Regions from separate parts of the Homo sapiens genome. Here region 1 is linked to region 2. Evidence: fine-mapped expression QTL. A gene starts in region 2. The other region holds a variant in brackets. All regions are shown on one strand. Distances are from middle to middle. Region 1 overlaps RNASEH2B-AS1 (RNASEH2B antisense RNA 1). Region 2 holds the start of RNASEH2B-AS1 (RNASEH2B antisense RNA 1).

Evidence for each region.
Region 1: its variant is fine-mapped to the expression of RNASEH2B-AS1 in whole blood (TOPMed, PIP above 0.99).

Annotation. Positions count from the first base shown.
Region 1 is chr13:50,887,056-50,892,285 of GRCh38, forward strand. It overlaps RNASEH2B-AS1 (RNASEH2B antisense RNA 1), which reads right to left. Exons shown (of 3, transcript NR_046552.1): 2 at 2,554-2,680. Among named protein-coding and RNA genes, the nearest start is that of RNASEH2B, 20 kb to the right of the region's middle. The variant T/C (reference allele first, on the strand shown) is at 2,810.
Region 2 is chr13:50,908,031-50,913,531 of GRCh38, forward strand. RNASEH2B-AS1 (RNASEH2B antisense RNA 1) reads right to left here and starts at 2,682. Exons shown (of 3, transcript NR_046552.1): 1 at 2,453-2,682. RNASEH2B (ribonuclease H2 subunit B) reads left to right here and starts at 1,761. Exons shown (of 11, transcript NM_024570.4): 1 at 1,761-2,110. The coding sequence starts at 2,047. RefSeq lists silencers at 1,576-2,005, 2,016-2,255, 2,466-2,515.

The DNA.
Region 1 (5,230 bases), 21 kb before region 2:
TAGATGACAACACTTAACCCTTGATCAGTGTTAACAGTACTAAAAATGGGACCACGAGACCTCATGTGCCGCCTGATGGAATGCAATCGGAAACACGCGATAGTACCTATGGAGTATTTGCCAAAATAAATGCATCTGAATCTAAGCAAGCTTCACACTCAGGCAGCAAGCTCATGAAAAATACAAAGGAACAAGTTATTAGATTAATGGGTTGAATGAGAATGCGATCAGCAAAATCTGGCATGCCGGAAGTTCTACAGGACAAATGAACCAATGTCTTCAACAAACAAAAAAACGGCTAAAAATGGGGAAGTGGGAACTTTCATAGATTAGAAAATACCTAAGAGACATTTCAACCAAATGCAATTTGTGGACTTTACTCTGTGATTTCAACAGGACTGTAAAATATATTTGAGAAAATTGGGGACATTTGAACACGGACTGCGTAATAGGTGAAATAATAGAATTAATGTTAATTTTGTCAGGTATGATAATGGAATGGTGGGTTTGTGGTTTTTAAAAATGCTCATCTGTTCGATTTATATACTACTGACTTAATTATGGATAAAACAATATGACATCAAAAAAGGTGAATAATAGATAAAGCAAGATGGACAACTGGGGCTGGACCTGTGCTTGGTGGGTCCTTGGTGTACCTGGTGGGTCCTGAGCACCACCCCGGTGGTTCTAGGTGTGCCCTGTCAAATTCCTGAAAACTCCTCTTATAAATGTGCAAATATTTATAATCAGTTTTTTTTTTTTAATAAAAAGAGTCTAACATTCTATGGCGACATTATGTGTAAAAAAATTCCTTTGGATCAGTTATGTGAAATATTTTTTAAAAACCAAGAAAAATGTTAAAAATTGTTGAATTTGAATATTGTGTCAATGGGGTTCATTATACTGTCTTTCTACTTTTGGATGTTTGAGAATTTCCTTAATAGAACAATTTTGAAAGTCTAGGAATACTAAGAGATATTAGAAAATTAAAAGCAACAGTCTAAGACTGATTTTCAAGGTGTTTTGTTTTGGGTTAAAGACAATTTCTTTTAAAAGGCAATTATGGACAAGTCAAATATGCACAACAGATACATTTGGAACTACCTGACTGTGATGGAGTCACTCTTCTCTCCTCTGCCCCCAGAGATACAGCACATACAGTTTGAAGTTAGTTCAATTAAGGTAACAATTTTCATTGTCTACTAAGTCAACGACTCTCGGTCTTTTGGAATATGCTGGATGCTTTCTAGTGTTTACTAGAATACTTGAGTAGTAAATACTTTCTAGTATTTACTAGAACTTGGAGTAGCACAATTCAAAGGATTCAGTGAATTAAGAATATACCAATCAACAATAATTGCACTACAGCTGACTAACAATATCTCCTGGTATCCATAAAAGACATTGCCAATGAATACACTATTTGGTTTCCCTATCACAGTGTCACAGTGTCAAACAGTTTGTACTCAAACAACTTGAGTACAATTCTTTACTGTTCTGACTGCCTGTCTCTTATGTTTATGGCAAAGTCCCAGTGTGTTCCAGTCATTTCTTACTTTCCCTGTTACTTGACATTACCTCTTTCTCAGTGACTCTCTTCAACACAGCGTCACATAACATGATCATTCCAGTCATCTACACTGAACAAAAAGTTCAAAATGGGAGCAAACATAACCTTTACACATTGATAAAAATATGGTATCATTAATAGTCCATTAATTGGATGTTATGCTAATAGGTTTGATCATCTGAAAGCTATATACCTGGATTTATCTCCCCAGATACACCTTATTTATCATCCTAAATACACCATGAAGACCTAAAAGAAATATGAGGTAATATGCTCTAAATATAATTTTTGATATAAGATATGACAGAATAAAAATTGTTTGCATCTTTTTTGAAAATCACTATGGAAGATGTTGTCCACTGAATGACTCCTGTAAACCTATTTAAGTATCATAGTAGAGTTTACACATAGGAAAATGATTGCTTCCTTTTGTTTATAAATGATCTGTTTCTCTATGTTACCTTGACTTTCACATACGTGAGAGCTAAACTGAAGCTACCATAATTAATTTAGGTTCTCTTACACAACGAACCCTGCTCATTTCCATCCCATCCAGCTTTATTTAATGATTCTATTGATGTATCTGTTGTGGACATATTTTATTTTGTCCCCCCAGCCCAAACACTCCCTCTTCTGATAGCAGCAGCACCTTCTTTTAGATAAACCCTTCTCCCCACCTGTCCCAACTCCAACCTTGTCGTTTTAGTAATGCAGTCAACCTCTGCCTTCTGCCACTCTCAGACCATTGCCATGGTCTTTGCTGAAGGCCAGAGTCTTTGACCAGCATTATTTCAAATTGAAATCAAGGAACTAATGAAGGAGGCATCTTCTTGACCAGTGATAAGCCAGATGACCACAACCTCCAAGGTGTGAAAGAATGTGACACAGAAAGACAGACCAGAGTCTGAGACAGCTACTTTCAGCACCTGGTACTATTTCCTCCCAAACCAGATACATCCCTGCCCATTCAAGGGTTAGGTTACCTGAGCCAATAAGTGTTCCTCATGACTCCAGTGAGTTTCTGATTGGGTTTCTGTCACTTGCAATCAATATTACCCTGCCTAATACAGAGTACTTCATTGTGAGCTGTCTCAAGTCTTTTGCAGAAGCCTGCAGAGGAGACAGAATAAAGTAAGGCCATTTATTTAATAATTTATTTACTTCTTTATTTCATATAACTGGTTTATTTCCAAAGTTTATTTGCAATATGTTGAATGAATAGATAGATATTGGCTCCAT[T/C]AGAAGGCCATCTTGAGCCTGGGCAACATAGGGAGACCCTCTCTCTACAAAAAAATTTAAAGAAAAAATTAGCTGGGTGTGGTGGCACATGCCTATAGTCCTAGCTACTCAGGAGGGTGAGGTGGAAAGATTGCTTGAGCCTGGGAGGTTGAGGCTGCAGTGAGCCGTGTTCATGTCACTGCATTCTAGCCCAGGCAAAAAAAAAAAAAAAAAAAAAAGCCATCTTGGCCATCTTCAGGAAGTAATATCCAAGAACTTCAATTACATTATTTTTTAAGGTAATTGTGCTTCAACCTTCAACACACTCAACTCCTCTAGGCTCCCCGGATTCTCTGGAGGCCCATGTAATGATATAGTTCTAGACTGGCAATTTAGTATATCTAGAAGTGCTGCCTTTCATAGATAAAAGGAACATTTGAGGCCATGCAAGTAAACTCATCAGTTCCTGTATGACATACGGAAACCCAGAAGTGTTAAGCCATCTGCCTAATATCACACAGCTCTCCATCACATCCCAAACCTGAATCAGATCCCAAACCTGAATCTAGCTCTTCTGATACCCAGCTCAGTGACTTTTCCACTGCACCATGCCCCCAAAGTCCTTTTCAGGACAGACATTAAAAAAGAAATAGACTTTGCTTTTCTTTGTAAAGCCATTGAGGCAGTTCTTCAGTTTCGTTGCAAGGAAAAATGGATCTTGCTCATGCAATGAAAAGTCTTGCAGTTTGAGAGGCTACTGTATGGGAGGACTGCCTAATGAGGGTCCTCAGAGCAGACTGCGGTGCAATAACACTGGGGTACGATAAGCTGGGGAGAGAGCATTCTGGGTCTGGCTTAAAGGGGTCCACAAGGGCCCTTAACTTCCCTTAGTTTTCTGACTTTTCTAAGTATACTTTTTTGCTAAGTGAATATAATAATAGTAATAATAACACCTATTGTATTTTACCAATCTCCTACAGTTATAGGAAGGATCAAAAGAAACGTGTGTAAAAGTACCTGGTAAAGAGGGAAGTGAATATTCTGTCATAGTACCAAAAATTTCCCGTTTGGGTCATCAGACAGTCTGAGATTCTGTTTTGTCTTTTCTAAGAACACTCCATGCCTATTCCAACCTTCCAGCCTTCCCTTGCCTGGAATGCGTTTTCCCTTTTCCTCCATGTCATGAAACCCTCTGCATCCTTTAAACACACTTTCTTTGCTAAAGTGCCTTTCTTGAGGGCTTTGCTCTGAATCCCTTCAGTGGAGTTTGTGGATCACTGTTGCACTCTGCTTTCTCTGGTCATTGCTTTGGGCTCTTTCTCTCTGGCTAGACTGTAAACCCCTTAAGCCAAGAACACTATTTTATATGCCCTCTCCTCCCAGAGTACATTAAAAAAGCAGTGGGTGCCAGTAGGCAGATGCTTCTTGAGTAGCTTAATAATCCCCAAGACAGCTCTTACTTGCTTGCAAAAGGCAATTGTGCACATCCCTTGCCAACTTTGGGTTCAGCAATGTCAGATGGATGGCTTGAAATTGGCAGAGCTCAGAGTATTTACACCACAGAAATTGGCAGATGCCACAGATGGTTTTTCTTTTTTCCCTGAGAGCCAGCTGTTAGCATTGACCAGCAGCCCATGCACTAAGGCAGATATAACATAGGTCTGCAACAGAGAAGAGAACATAGCTCTTAAAACAGGAGTCACAGCTGGTATAGCTCCACAGGAGAAGGTGGAACAAGCCTTATAAAGGATGCCCACAATCAAATTAGAGCTCCACAAATCTAAGTAACTAGAAAAAAAGCTGCAAGACCTTTCTACTTTAATACCAGTGATCTCATGTTTTTCTCAAGAGTATTATTAAAAAGGTGATAGACACGTGGAAATGGGAGAGGTAAGGGTGTTTTATCATTATTGTCAGGGGTGTAGAAACAAAAGCTTTAAAATTCTTTAAAATATATTTGAGGGGGAATACAATGGCTTGACAAAGCTTTATAATTACATAATTAATTATGGGGTGAAATGTGATTGCAGGGCCTTTGTATTTAAGTCTCATTCAGCATTCATGGCATCGAGAATTTTCTCCACTTTGCTATAAAAAGGATTTTGTTCTGAACAAAGAGAAAGAGAGAGCTGATATAATGTCATGCTTGGTGCAAATGGCAGCATAAGAAAGCAGAAGGTTGAGGTGACCAGCCAGGGGTGACCAGAAAAAAAGTGGGGTGGGGTGGGATGATCCACAAGCTTTCCTATTAGTTTTTTTTAAAATCCTTTTTCTTAATGTAAATTACCCACTGCATAAAACAGTATAACATTAGACATTTCTGATTTAAGGAATAGGATTAACGTAAATCTTATATTCCACTTATATGAATCAATAACTTTAGAAGAGATTATTTGCAAAATATCTGCCTGTAATCTCCTAGCATCTTCACTGCTGTGCACA
Region 2 (5,501 bases):
ATTCGTAAGTTTTAAATTGTACAGTGTTCTGAGTGGTGTGAAGAAATCTTGCACCATCCAGCTTCGTCCTGCAAAGGACCTGAATTCTACCTTTGTCCAGCGGATCCACACTGCAGAAGGTCCCCTCCTTATGAGTCACTTAGTAGCTGCAAGAGTAGTGATGCTGGCATACTGTGAGAATTGTTCTATTTTATTATTATTGTTGTTCATCTCTTACTGGGCCTAATTTTCAAATTAAACTTTATCACAGATATACATGCAAAGGAAAAAACAGTATATTAGGGTTTGGTACTATTTGCGGTTTTAGGCCTTCACTGGGGGTTTTGGATCCCATCCTACAGGAATAATGGGGTGCTCCTGTAGCTGTTAGTAAGACGATGGTGTGCCTGGGGATTTGTGCTATACACCACAGCATCTTCTACAGTCGTTTTGGGGGAGAGGGAAGATCAGAGCAGTACCAATCTGCTGCTCCTTGCCCCAAAACTGGCAAGAGGCGCCTTTCCTCAGCCAGAAAGGCCTCTTCTCCACCAGCTGTGTCCTGCAATCAACTGCAGCTGTATTGGTCTCACCCCATGGGAAACAGGTTTGAAGTTAAAAACCTTTTCAGAGGGCCGAGATAAATTTAGTGCTGCTAAATTTAACTATCTTCAAGATTAAACATGAAAAGCAAAGTGCATGAGTTATGTATATTATTCTTTCAATTGTGCAAAAATAAGACATTAACTTGTTTTTGCATGGAAAAATTCTGCAAGAATAGAGAAGAAATGTTAACAGTTACCCCTGGGATCTGGGATAAAAGAGATACATCATGCTTTTCTTTAAAAAAAAAAAAAATAGGTTTTTGTGGATTTTTTTGTTTTTGTTTTTTTTGACAGAGTCCAGCTCTGTAGCCCAGGCCAGAGTGCAGTGGTGGGATCTCGGTTCACTGCAACCTCCATCTCCTGGGTTCAAGTGATTCTTGTGCCTCAGCCTCCGTAGTAGCTGGGATTACAGATGTGCACCACCACACCCAGCTAATTTTTGTATTTTCAGTAGAGACGGAGTTTCACCTTGTTGGTCAGGCTGGTCTCCAGCTCCTGACCTCAGGCGATCCGCCCGCCTCGGCCTCCCAAAGTGCTGGGATTACAGGCCTGAGCCACTGCGCCTGGCCCGTGCTTTTCTCTAAAGTATGAAAGGAATATGTACTTTCTTCTTAAAAACCATGTACCAAACAACACTTTTCAATTAAAATGTTATTTTTAAAAGTTTAAATCCCCAAATTTCATGGCTCTAACTTTTTAAACATCACTTTTTAAATAAATGTCTAAGTTTTTAACTCAGTATACAGCGTTCTCCAAAACAACAAATTCATATTCTGAGCCCAAAACTGTGCACCTCTTTTAGTGATGAGGACGGAGTCCAAATTGAGGACATCCCTTGTAGCTCACAATGCACACATATTCTCACATCAATAGCAACACAGAATGCAACTGATGACCAATATATATTCACAAATAATTGAGGACCATGGCTAAGAGTTGCATTCGGATTCCGATGTGACTGCTATTGTCCTTAACACGGACTAGCTCCAGGTGAGTCCCCCGGCCCCGGGGGTGTGGCGGGCGTCACCCGTTGTCCGGGCACACACCCCGCAGACCCAATCCTAGCCCGCTGGCTAGACCATGGAGGGCCGCTGGGTGCAGCCACAGAGCGCGGGGCCCCGGCGACCCCGCCCCGCTCCGCGTCACTCGGCGCCCTGCGGCGCGCGATGAGCACCTACCACTAGCGGAGCCGCGAGGGAGAGGCCGCGGCCCCTTCCCGTTGCCTGCGGCCACCGGCCGGCATTCAGAGCCCCTCGCCTGGCGCTAAATTTAAAAACGTAACACGAGCAGCAGGCTGGTCTCGGAAACGAAACGAAATTCGGTCCCTGGGCCTCCTCCCGGGCGCTGCCGGTCCCTCAGCGCGCCGCGCCACCCGGAACAGACCCTTCTCCCGCCATTTTCGGCGGGGCTGGGAGACTGAGGCCCGCGGCGCTGAGCCTGCGGCGCCCCGGAAGAGGCGGGCGGCATGGCCGCTGGCGTGGACTGCGGGGACGGGGTTGGCGCCCGGCAGCACGTGTTCCTGGTTTCAGGTAAACACGCGCGCCCGGGCGGCGGGGTCGGCCCAAGAACTGGCGGAGCGGCCCGCGACCCCGGGCGCGCCGCCCCCCACCCCGGTGGCTCCCACTACCCGGCCCGGCGCGGGATGGGATTCTCTCTGGGACAGCTGGCCCCGCATTTTGGTCACACGTCATAGCAAGCCGCGGTTTTCAAACCCGGAAGCGCCGAAAAGGACCGAGCGTGTTTCCCGGGCCCTGATCCCCGGTGGCTCGGGTGGGAGGGTGGAAGCCGACTCAGCCTGAGGGGAGCCACGCGGGTTCGCGGTCACCGGTGCGCTGCGGGCCCCGGAGGTTTCTGCCCTTGGTGTCCCCTACCTGGCAGCTGGCCCTGCTTCTGTGATCCTACTGGGTTGGAACCAGGGATCCAGTAGGCTCGAAGTGGCCTCAGACGGTGCGCAGTTTTAAGAAAGCAAAGGGACAGGCCTGCAGTGGCGAGGCAGGAGGGAAGCGGGATGGGAGTCGCGGTTAGGCCAAGGGTAGTTCAAAGCGATTCAGCAGGATGATGACCACAGGAGTGCTGGAGCCGGGCCTTTCAGCCCCCGTGTGGATGATGACCGGCCATCCAGGACATGCGAGGGCTTGGGACAGTGGACAGCCAGTGCCACACAAGGAAGGACCGATTAAATGACACAGTTAAAGGAATTTGGCCTAGGGAGTGCAAGCCAGAAAGGTTTGGTCTTTTTATATATGTAACATTGGAAAAAAGGAACATCTCCTGTTCCCTGTATTAAGTTTTGACTTTAGCTCAGCAAATGCAGTGTTTGTGGCAGTAAATATACTCTGATAACAATATTCTTTCCCAGGAATTTAGAGTTTTATGATGGTTATTGAAAATGTTTACATGACAGGCTGTCAATAATATTTTTTGCCTCTAAAAATAAAACATACATAAAGTGTACGGATTTTAAGTATGCAACTCACTGAACTTTTCATACGTATACACCACCCTAGTAACCATCCCCCAGTTCAAGATGTAGACTGTTTCCAATAACGCCTCATGCCTGTTCCTAGATAGCCCCAGGAACCTCTATGCTGACCTCTGTCACCAGAGATTAGTTTTGCCTGTTTGAATAAGAGTGTACCCTTTGTGTCTGGCTTCTTTCACTCTGAAAGATTCATCCTTGTTGTGAAATTCATTCATGTTGTAGCAGTTGTTTGGTTGGTTGGTTAGTTTTTTCATTGCTGCTTCTGTTTAATTGTATGAGTATCCATACTATGTATCTCTACTGTGGATGGACATTTGGGTTGTTTCCAGTTTGCAACTATTACAAGTTACACTTCTCAGAGCATTCCTTTAGGCGGCTTTTGGTAGACATGGGCACTCATATCTCTAGGGTGTATACCCTGGAGTGGAATGGCTGGTTCTAGTACTTGTGTGTAGAGCTGTAGTTGACAATGTTAAATGGTTTTCCAAAGTGGTTATACTGATTTATATTCCCACAAGCAGTGTATGAGAGTTCCCATTGCTGCACATCCTCGGTAAAAACGTTTGGGTGGTAAAACAGCTAATGCAAAATTCAGGGTTTTGACAGAATCTCGCAAAGGGCTACCCGTATACATGCTTTTCATTAGAAAAATCATCCTTTCTTCTCACTTCGTCACATCAAGACAATTAGATTTTCAGAGTAGGAACTCTAATCATTCTTTCAGAATCAAGTGCATTATTGTTATTTCAGATATACACAATAGCTGATGATAATTTGAGCTTCTTATTTTGTTGTTCTGTTTAATCAGTATTGACATCGTCATTTTATACGTGTGTTTGTGTCCTTGTATTAAACACAAAACCCTCAAAAGAATTAAATATTGATTGTATCCCTGAAAATTGTAGGTTTTAATATATCTACTGCTGGGTTGTGGGAAGAGTTTCAGTTGAGTTTCTGTTCAGAGCTGAGATCTACTGTGACCTTTTAAGGCATTGGGGGAGGCTGAGCAGCTGTTGGAACTGCTAGAAAGAGCTGTGTGGTCAGGGGGGCAGGAACTCTTAACAGTTAAAAACTTGAGCTACCAGCTCCTGCAATTCTTCCTTCTGGCCTTTAGCGCCACCTGCAGGCTCTGAGGGTACAACAAGGTTTGACAGCGACTGCAGTGCAACACTAGTTCTCAAACTTGAGGGCATCATTTACCTGGGGAGCTGGGCCTCAGTTCCCAGAGGTGCTGGTTCAGTAGGTCCTGGGCTGGGGCCAGAGAATGTGCATTGGTAACAAGTTCCCAAGAGATACTGATGCTGCTGGTCCGGAAACCACTGCCCCCACCCCAGGAACCACTGCAGTAAAGACTTTGGGAACTAGATTGGGATATAAGAATGACAAGCCTCATGTTTGGCCCTCTTTGTGGTGGGCCAGAATTTATATGGTCAAGGAAGTGCATGTAAGTGCAGAGTGTGAGGCTCATCTTCCCAGATGTAGTTGTCGTCTTTTCCAGAAGATGAGAAATCAGCCTGCTTAGTTACCCATTCGGGAGTTGGAAACGATATGCCCTTGGCTGAGGGAGCACCATACTCCAGTAAAGCTGGGCCCTTAATAAAGAAAACAAAGATTATTAAACATTTTTCAAAAGTATTTGGCGGAGGCGGCTTGTATTCGGTTTTAGAAAACTTGGGATCTGAAGAACTTACTTTGTGTACTGAAAAGTGAGCACATGAACCCACAGGCCAACAGAACTTTAAAGGGATTTATCCGTGAGACAAGGGTAAAGATGCCTAACCTTGCAATGATACTTTTTTCCAACATTTAATTCATGCTGTTCATCGAGTTGCCTGCCACAGCACTGTGTTATATCTTGAAGGATATATTTAAATGTTTGATTTAGGTATCTTTGCCTCTAGTTTTCAGTTTGTTTGGAGAAGCTGGCTATCTCAGATAAACAAATCTGGAACTTGGAAGAGATACTGTGAGATATGCAGACTTGGGACGTTGGTTTTCATAGGCTGGTGAAGACAGAACCATTTCCCATTTCAGCAAGGCAAGCATTTCTTTTAGTTTGGGATGGTCTTAAATGTTTCTGTAAAATGGCCTGGGAATACTAGCCTGTTTGCAGTTTTAATTTCTATAAGAGGCCATTACTTTACTTTTTGGAAAGTAGTATAAGTTTCCATCCCTCTTTTTCTGCCCTAAAAGTAAATGTTTGAGTCATATTTTTAATGTTTTTCTTAAGTCCATTTTTCTTGTTAATGCTACTAAGTTGGGATGTACCCAGGTGTGAGAGGTCACCTGATTCATTGCGTTTAGAAGACTGCATTTATTGCTGTTGGGGGCTGAACAATTAATTGGGTTCATCTCCAAGGAAATGTTAATTGGGAAACCCTAACATTGTGTATTGAAAAAAAAAAAAAGAAGAAAAATCATTTCAGGCCTGTTAAAAC